Linked DNA regions of Homo sapiens: all the other regions are linked to region 3. The links come from fine-mapping of genetic effects on gene expression. A gene starts in region 3. Each other region holds a variant in brackets. All regions are shown on one strand. Distances are between the middles of the regions.

The links. PIP is the estimated chance that this variant, and not a neighbour inherited with it, causes the effect.
Region 1: its variant is the best candidate, but not a certain one, in a credible set for the expression of ZNF786 in whole blood (INTERVAL, PIP 0.54).
Region 2: its variant is the best candidate, but not a certain one, in a credible set for the expression of ZNF786 in monocytes (Schmiedel 2018, PIP 0.77).

What each region holds. Positions count from the first base shown.
Region 1 is chr7:149,068,289-149,070,788 of GRCh38, reverse strand. It overlaps ZNF786 (zinc finger protein 786), which reads left to right. Exons shown (of 4, transcript NM_152411.4): 4 at 1-1,148. The coding sequence ends at 366. Among named protein-coding and RNA genes, the nearest start is that of ZNF786, 21 kb to the left of the region's middle. The variant T/AAAAAAT (reference allele first, on the strand shown) is at 1,314.
Region 2 is chr7:149,154,256-149,157,100 of GRCh38, reverse strand. It overlaps ZNF398 (zinc finger protein 398), which reads right to left. Exons shown (of 6, transcript NM_170686.3): 2 at 2,761-2,845. Among named protein-coding and RNA genes, the nearest start is that of ZNF398, 8.2 kb to the right of the region's middle. RefSeq lists enhancers at 1-400, 401-968. The variant G/T (reference allele first, on the strand shown) is at 1,759.
Region 3 is chr7:149,089,216-149,092,060 of GRCh38, reverse strand. It overlaps ZNF786 (zinc finger protein 786), which reads left to right and starts at 1,343. Exons shown (of 4, transcript NM_152411.4): 1 at 1,343-1,438. The coding sequence starts at 1,421. RefSeq lists silencers at 492-981, 1,102-1,401.

The DNA.
Region 1 (2,500 bases), 21 kb after region 3:
AAGCTCATCGAGCACATCAGAACGCACACGGGAGAGAAGCCTTTTCAGTGTCCCAAGTGTGACAAGAGTTTCCGCCTGAAGGCGCAGCTGCTCAGCCATCAGGGCCTGCACACAGGGGAGAGGCCTTTTCACTGCCCTGAGTGTGACAAGAACTTCCGGGAAAGGGGACACATGCTGAGGCACCAGCGCATCCACAGGCCCGAGAGGCCCTTTGCCTGTGGCGATTGTGGGAAGGGCTTCATTTACAAGTCTAAGCTTGCGGAGCACATCAGAGTACACACAAAATCCTGTCCTGCTCCAAATGAACTGGACATTAAGAAAAGGCTCAGCCAACTGTTTGCAATGATAGAGGCCGATTGGAGTTGAGGCAGAGTGGGACATCCAAAGCGTTGAGCAGGATTGGTATTGCCCAGGAATCCACAGCAACAGTAGCCAGACCCGCTGGTAGACGGGTTTTAGGAGCAGGTATCCTTCTTTGAGCAAGAGTGTCATGCAAGTTAGGAATATGAAGAACCACAAAGGATTTTCTCTTCAGAAGCATCACCAATTATATTTCTTTCTTTTTTTTTTTTTTTTCCAAGATGGAGTTTTGCTCTGTCACCCAGGCTGGAGTGCAGTGGCGTGATCCCAGCTATATTGGAAAAGACAGCATTATAAAACAAGGACATAATTTTATGAAAAAGGAGGCATCTGCAAACGAAAACAATTTCTACGAGGTTATATGTGATTGTTAACATTTTTAAGAAAAGGTGCACACAGAAATCCAGATAAGATGTGATTACCTTTGTGCATTTGTATAAAAATATATGTGTGTAATTATAAGGAAGTTCTGACATTTTAAAAAGTAATTGTTATAAAAGTAAATTTAGGCCAGGCACAGTGGTTCATGCCTGTAATCCCAGCACTTGGGAGGCCGTGGCAGGAGGATCACGAGCCAAGGAGTTTGAGACCAGCTTGGGCAACATGGCAAAACCCTGTCTCTACTAAAAATACAAAAATTAGCCAGGCATGGTGGTACACACCAGTAGTCCCAGCTACTCCTGAAGCTGAGGTGGGAGGATCGCCTGAGCCCAGGGAGGTCAAGGCTGCAGTGAGCAATGATGGTGCCACTGCACTCCAGTATGGATGACATAGTATGACACTGTCTCAAAAAAAAAAAAAAAAAAATTTGGGCCAGGGGTGGTGGCTCACGCCTGTAATCCCAGCACTTTGGGAGGCTGAGGCGGGTGGATCACAAGGTCAGGAGATCGAGACCATCCTGGCAAACACAGTGAAACCCTGTCTCTACTAAAAATACAAAAAAAAAAAAAAAA[T/AAAAAAT]TAGCCGGGTGTGGTGGCAGGCACCTGTAGTCCCAGGAGGCTGAGGCAGGAGAATGGTGTGAGCCCAGGAGGCGGAGCTTGCAGTGAGCCAAGATCAAGCCACTGCACTCCAGCCTGGGTGACAGAGCGAGACTCCGTCTCAAAAAAAAAAAAAAAACAAATTTAGTATCTCCCAAAGGAAGCTTGGCAAGTCCTTTTCATTCTCTTTAGAATTTATAGAATATAGCCTGGCGTGGTGGCTCATACCTATAATCCCATTACTTTGGGAGGTCAAGGCAGGAGGATCACTTGAGGTCAGGAGTTCAAGACCAGACTGGCCAACATGGTGAAACACCATCTCTACCAAAAAGTACAAAAATTAGCCGGGCATGGTGGCATGCACCTGTAGTCTTGGCTACGCCGGAGGCTGAGGCAGGAGAATCGCTTGAACCCCAGAGGTGGAGGTTGCATTGAGCTGGGATTGCACCACTGCATTCCAACTTGGGAGACAGAGCAAGACTCCATCTCAAAAAAATTATAGAATATATAATTAATATATAAAGATACAGAATAATATATAATTATAAATTCCTTTTTTTTTTTCTTTGAGATGGAGTCTTGCTCTGTCGCCCAGGCTGGGGTGCAGTGGCATGATCTCGGCTCACCGCAAGCTCCACCTTCCGGGTTCATGCCATTCTCCTGCCTCAGGCTCCCAAGTAGCTGGGACCACAGGCGCCCGCCACCACGCCCAGCTAATTTTTTGTATTTTTAGTAGAGACAGAGTTTCACCGTGTTAGCCAGGATGGTCTCGATCTCTTGACCTCGTGATCCGCCCGCCTCAGCCTCCCAAAGTGCTGGGATTACAGGCATGAGCCACGGTGCCGGCCTTTCTTTTCTTTTTTTTTTTTTTTTTGGAGTCTCTGTCAGCCAGCCTGGAGTACAGTGCCATGATCTTAGCTCGCTGTATCCTCCACCTCCCAAGCTCAAGTGATCCTTCTTTCTCAACCTCCTGAGTAGCTGGGACTAAAGGCGCACGCCATCACGTGCCACCATGCCTATTTTTGTATTTTTAGTAGAGACTAAAAATACAAAAAATATAAAATGTGGGCCAGGCTGGTCTTGAACTCCTGACCTCAGGTGATCTACCCACCTCAGCCTCCCAAAGTGCTGGGATTATAGGTGTGAGCCACCGTGCCCGGCCTATACTT
Region 2 (2,845 bases), 65 kb before region 3:
CATCTACCCAGTTCTTCAAGCCGAAAGCCTGAGACAGTAAACCTAACGTGGTTAAGAGCATCTGCTCTGGAGCCAACCTAGTTAAAACACAACTTTGTTATTTATATTAACTATGTGACCTCGGGCAAGTTGGGTTCTTCTGAGACTCATATGCCTTAAAATAAGTAGAACACTTAGAATAGTAAGTTCTAACTAAATTACCACACAGTAAATTTATAATTATTCTTTTTTTTTTTTTTGAAATGGAGTTTCGCTCTTGTTGCCCAGGCTGGAGTTCAGTGGTACAATCTCCCCTCACCGCAATCTCCGCCTTCTGGGTTCAAGCGATTCTCCTGCCTCAGCCTCCCAAGTAGCTGGGATTACGGGTATGCGCCACCAGGCCCAGCTAATTTTTTTGTATATTTAGTAGAGATGGGGTTTCTCCATGTTGGTCAGGCTGGTCTCAAACTCCTCACCTCAGGTGATCCACCTGCCTTGGCCTCCCAAAGTGCTGGGATTACAGGCGTGAGCCACTGCGCCTGGCCTACAATTACTGTTCTTAATGCCTTATTTCCTAATTCCCATCAGTAACTCTTTTTTTTTTTTTTTTTTTTTTTGAGATGGAGTCTCGCCCTGTTGCCTGGTCTGGAGTGCAGTGGCGTGATCTCGGCTCACTGCAACCTCCCCCTCAACTTCAAGCGATTCTCCTGCCTCAGCCTCCCAAGTAGCTGGGATTACAGGTGCCCACCACCACGCTCAGCTAATTTTTTTGTATTTTTAGTAGAGACGGGGTTTCATCATGTTGGCCAGGCTGGTCTCAAACTCCTGACCTCATGATCCGCCCGCCTCAACCTCCCAAAGTGGTGGGATTACAGGCGTGAGCCAATGCACCCTGCCTTCCCATCAGTAACTCTTATTGTCAGTTCTACCACCAAACATCCTGCATCTGTCCACTTCTCTCCATCTCTACAACTGCTACCCTCATCCAAGCCACTTGCATCCCTCCCTGCCTTAGTATTTCCTCCCTTCTTCAGTTCTTCCCCTACGATCCATCCTCCACAAAGCAGCCAAAGGGATTCTTTCAATATATAAAACTGGCCGGGCGCGGTGGCTCATGCCTATAATCCCAGCACTTTGGGAGGCCAAGGCGAGCGGATCACGAGGTCAGGAGATCAAGACCATCCTGGCTAACATGGTGAAACCCCGTCTCTACTAAAAATACAAAAAATTAGCTGGGCATGGTGACGGACGCCTGTAGTCCCAGCTACTCAGGAGGCTGAGGCAGGAGAATGGCGTGAACCCGGGAGGCAGAGCTTGCAGTGAGCCGAGATGGCGCCACTGCACTCCAGCCTGGGCAACAGAGTGAGACTCCATCTCAAAAAAAAAAAAATTAAAAAAAAAAAAAAAAAAAAAATATATATATATATATATATATATAACCAAATATAATTCCTCTGCTTCAAACCCTCCAATTTCTCCTCATTACACCTTAGTTAAAAATCCAAATTCCTTTCCTTGGTCTTAAATGCCCTACACATCAGTGATTCACAACCCTAGTCATATATTAGAATCATCTATGGAGGTTTTTAAAAAATTATTCATGCTTAAGCTCCATCCTGGACCTATTAGGTCAGAATCTGGATGTGATGCTCACCAAAATTTTAAAAGCCTACCAGGTGATTCTTCTTTTTTGTCGTTGTTGGAGACGGAGTCTCACTCTGTTGCCCAGGCTGGAGTGCAGTGGCGCAATCTCAGCTCACTGCAACCTCTGTCTCCCGG[G/T]TTCAAGCGATTCTCCTGCCTCAGCTTCCCAAGTAGCTGGGATTAAAGGCGCCCACCACCAAGCCCAGCTAATTTTTGTATGTTTAATAGAGATGGGGTTTCGCCTTGTTGGCCAGGCCAGTCTTGAACTCCTGAACTTGTGATCTGCCTTTCTCGGCCTCCCAAAGTGCTGGGTTTACAGGTGTGAGCCACCACACCTGGCCAATTTTTGTATTTTAAGTAGAGACGGGGTTTCACCATGTTGGCCAGGCTGGTCTTGAACTCCTGACCTCAGGAGATCCACCTGCCTCAGCCTCCCAAAATGCTGGGATTACAGGTGTGAGTCATCTCGCCAGGCCTTTTTTTTTTTTTTTTAGAAGGAGTTTTGCTCTTGTTGCCCAGCCTGGCATGCAGTGGCATGATCTCGACTCACTGCAACCTCCAACTCCTGGGTTCAAGCTATTCTCCAGCCTCAGCCTCCCGAGTGGCTAGGATTATAGGCATGTGCTACCACACCCGGCTAATTTTTGTATTTTTAGTAGAGACAGGGTTTCCTCACGTTGGCCAGGATGGTCTCAAACTCCTGACCTCAGGTATCTGCCCATCTCAGCCTCCCAAAGTGCTGGGATGAGCCACCGCGCCCAGCCTCAAATTGACTGATTTAAAAGAATATTTATGTAGTCTCCTCCCCAAGAATCTGGCACACAAGTTAACGAAGAAAGAAGCGGCTCATGGGTAATGGGTAGGAGAAACCAAAAGAGAAAAAAAATCCATCTACCAGATAGCCAACTTTGGTCCAGCAAGAGGTTTCCAATCTGAATCTTGGCACTCTAAATGGGTACTAAATTGAACATAAAATGTTTCCCAAATAGACAAACATAAAACACCTTCATGATTCTTTCAGACTGAGATATTTTAAGAAACTTTAAAAGGAAATAAAAAATCTAAGTAACTGAATGACCAAGACTACTACTAATGTAAGTTCTAGTGGTACCACTTTACATCTAGAAATGAAGGTATTACCTTTGGGATATCTCCCTTAATACCTGGAGGGAGCCGCAGGATCCAGAAGTTCCTGTTGCGCAGCAGGTTCTCCAAGTTCTCCAGC
Region 3 (2,845 bases):
CTACTAAAAATACAAAAATTAGCCGGGCGTGGTGGCAAATGCCTGTAATCCCAGCTACTCGGGAGGCTGAGGCAGGAGAATTGCTTGAATCCAGGAGACAGAGGTTGCAGTGAGCCGAGATTGCGCCACAGCACTCCAGCCTGGGTGACAAGAGTGAGACTTTGTCTCCAAAAAAAAAAAATTGTACTGTATAACAGTTGTAAAAATAAAAAACGTTAAACAGTAAGGTGCATGTACATTTCACGATTCTGTGGCAAACACAGATGCGTATATGCTCCTCAGCCTACGCAGGGACTATTTTATTTCTTATGCACATCCTCTCCAAACTACACACTTTTCCTTTGCTACTTCAGCCTGACACCTAAGACATGACTAAGACAGAATGCGAGGTTGATTTTCTGGAGACAATCGCCACCCCCTTCCTCGCCCTCTCTCCTTTCTGTCTCTTCCTGGTTTCCCCACCTCTCCCCTGTTCTTGCGTTCTCGTGTTTCTCACGCCCTGTGTCATGGCCTCCTCCGTCTTCTCCTCCTACTCTGTCTCTGTCTCCTGCCGGGGCCCGGGGTGCCCGACCGCAGCCTTGGGCCACCCTGAGTCCCTGCAGGCGGCCCTGAGGCCGGGGTGGCTTCCGCATGGGGTCTCTGCCCAAGGCCGTTCTCTGCTAAGGAAGGAGCGTGGCCGCCCGGGGAGCCCGGAGGGCTCTAGACCCACGGCGACCGGACCTGGTGGGCGGACCCCGCCTCCGCGTCCCCGGCGGGACAAGCATGGGGCCCCCACGGCCTCCGCGCCCCCGGCGGGACGGATGCCCCGGGCCACCGCGGGCAGCGCGCGCCCCCCACCCACTTTCCGGCCTCGCTGGATTCCCGGGACCCCCTCACAGACGAAGCCTGTCTCGGGGGCGGCTTTGGGAGGAACCGCACCGGAGGTTCCCCTCTCGCTGCCTCTCAGTCTGGGTTTCTGTGGAGCGCGTCTCCCTGTCCCTGTCCCTGATCTCTCCCTGTCCCTGTCCCTGATCTCTCCATGTCCTGCCCCTCCGTTTCCCCTCCGGCCAGCTCCTCAGCTTGTCTCTGACCGCTTCCCTCCCCAGATCCCGGGAATCCGAGGGTCCCTCAAAGACCGGCGTGCTGCGGCCTGCTCTGAGGGCGCCCGGGCCCCTGGGTCCCTCCTCTGAGGACCGACGCTCAGGCAGCGCCGCTTCTTCCTCCCGCAGGAGGCGCTGTAGGACTGAGCGGCAGCCGCGGCCGGGCGCCGGGTCCCAGCATGCACCGCGCCCGGCCGGCGCTGCGTTTGGGGGCCACCCGGGCTGTGCGTGGGAGTCGGGTTGGGGCGGAGCGGAGGGGAGTCAGTGCGCAGCAGGGCAGGTTCCTGCGGAGCCGCCGGAGACGGTCGGGTTTGCCAGGGCCGGGCGGGACCGCGGGGACCATGGCGGAGCCGCCTCGGGTAAGCGGGCTAGCCTGTTTGGACGCCCGGTTTCGGGGTCGTGGTGGGTCCTCGGGTTCCGGGCTCGCCCGTGTCCTGGGGTCCCCGTGAGTGCGCGCGGTGCACGGGTAGGACGGAGTCTGCAGGCTGCTTCTGCTGGGGATGTGGATTCCGGGCCCTGCGGTGAGCAGGTGGCCTCCGCTCCCGCGGCTTGTCCGTGGCCAAACCCCTGGACAAAGCCGAGCGTGGACCGAGGCCGACCTAGGAGCGGGGCGGAGCCTGGGCGAGGATGCCGGGCGGACGGGGAGCGGACGGTGGAAAGGATAGAAAGGTTTGGGGCCAGAGGTGGATGTTACAGGTCAACCAGTTTTACATCATAGTCACCGAAATCAGAACAACTGTTCCAAAAAGTTTAAGATTCCGAATGGTTGAAATGGTGTTTGGCGGGGGCTTCAATGTCAGAATTTATTGTCTAGCGTGATTTGGGTTGAGTGTAAGATGATACGTTGGGAAGAGTAGAAGAGGATACAAAAAATTAAGTTAGTGGTTTCTTAAAATCGAGGTTTAGAGGGTATTTTTATCTTGTAAACTTTAATGTTGAGGATTTTTGCTGATTATTAAATGAATTAGGCCGGGCGCGGTGGCTCACGCCTGTAATCCCAGCACTTTGGGAGGCCGAGGCGGGTGGATCACGTGAGGTCGGGAGTTCGAGACCAGCCTGGCCAACATGGTGAAACCCCAACTCTACTAAAAATACAAAAAATTAGCCTGGCATGATGGCGGGCGCCTGTAATCCCAGCTACTCGGGAGGCTCAGGCAGGAGAATTGTTTGAACCCGGGAGACGGAGGTTGCAGTGAGCCGAGACTGCACCATTGCACTCCAGCCTGGGCAACAAGAGCGAAACTCCGTCTCCAAAAATATATACATACCTATATATATGGGGAAAGGATATAAACAGCCAAATCACAGACCTGAAAATAAATTATTAATGAGTAAAAGAATGGATTTTAAAACTTGTGACATTCAGGCCAGGCGCCGTGGTTTACGCCTGTAATCCCAGCACTTTGAGAGGCCGAGGTGGGCAGATCACTTGACGTCAGGAGTTCAAGACCAGCCTGGCCAACATGGCGAAAAACTGTCTCTACTAAAAAATACGAAAATTAGCTGAGTGTGGTGGCGGACGCCTGTAATCCCAGCTCCTCGGGAGGCTGAGGTAGGGAGAATTGCTTGAACTCGGGAGGTGGAGGTTGCAGCGAACTGAGATGGCGCCACTGCACTCCAGCCTGGGCGACAGAGCGAGACTCTATCTCAAAAACAAACAAACTTGTGACATTCAGACGGTGGAACACTATACAAAATTAAAATAAATTAGCTACATATATGATCAACAGGGCCGGGCGTGGTGGCTCACGCCTCTAATCCCAGCA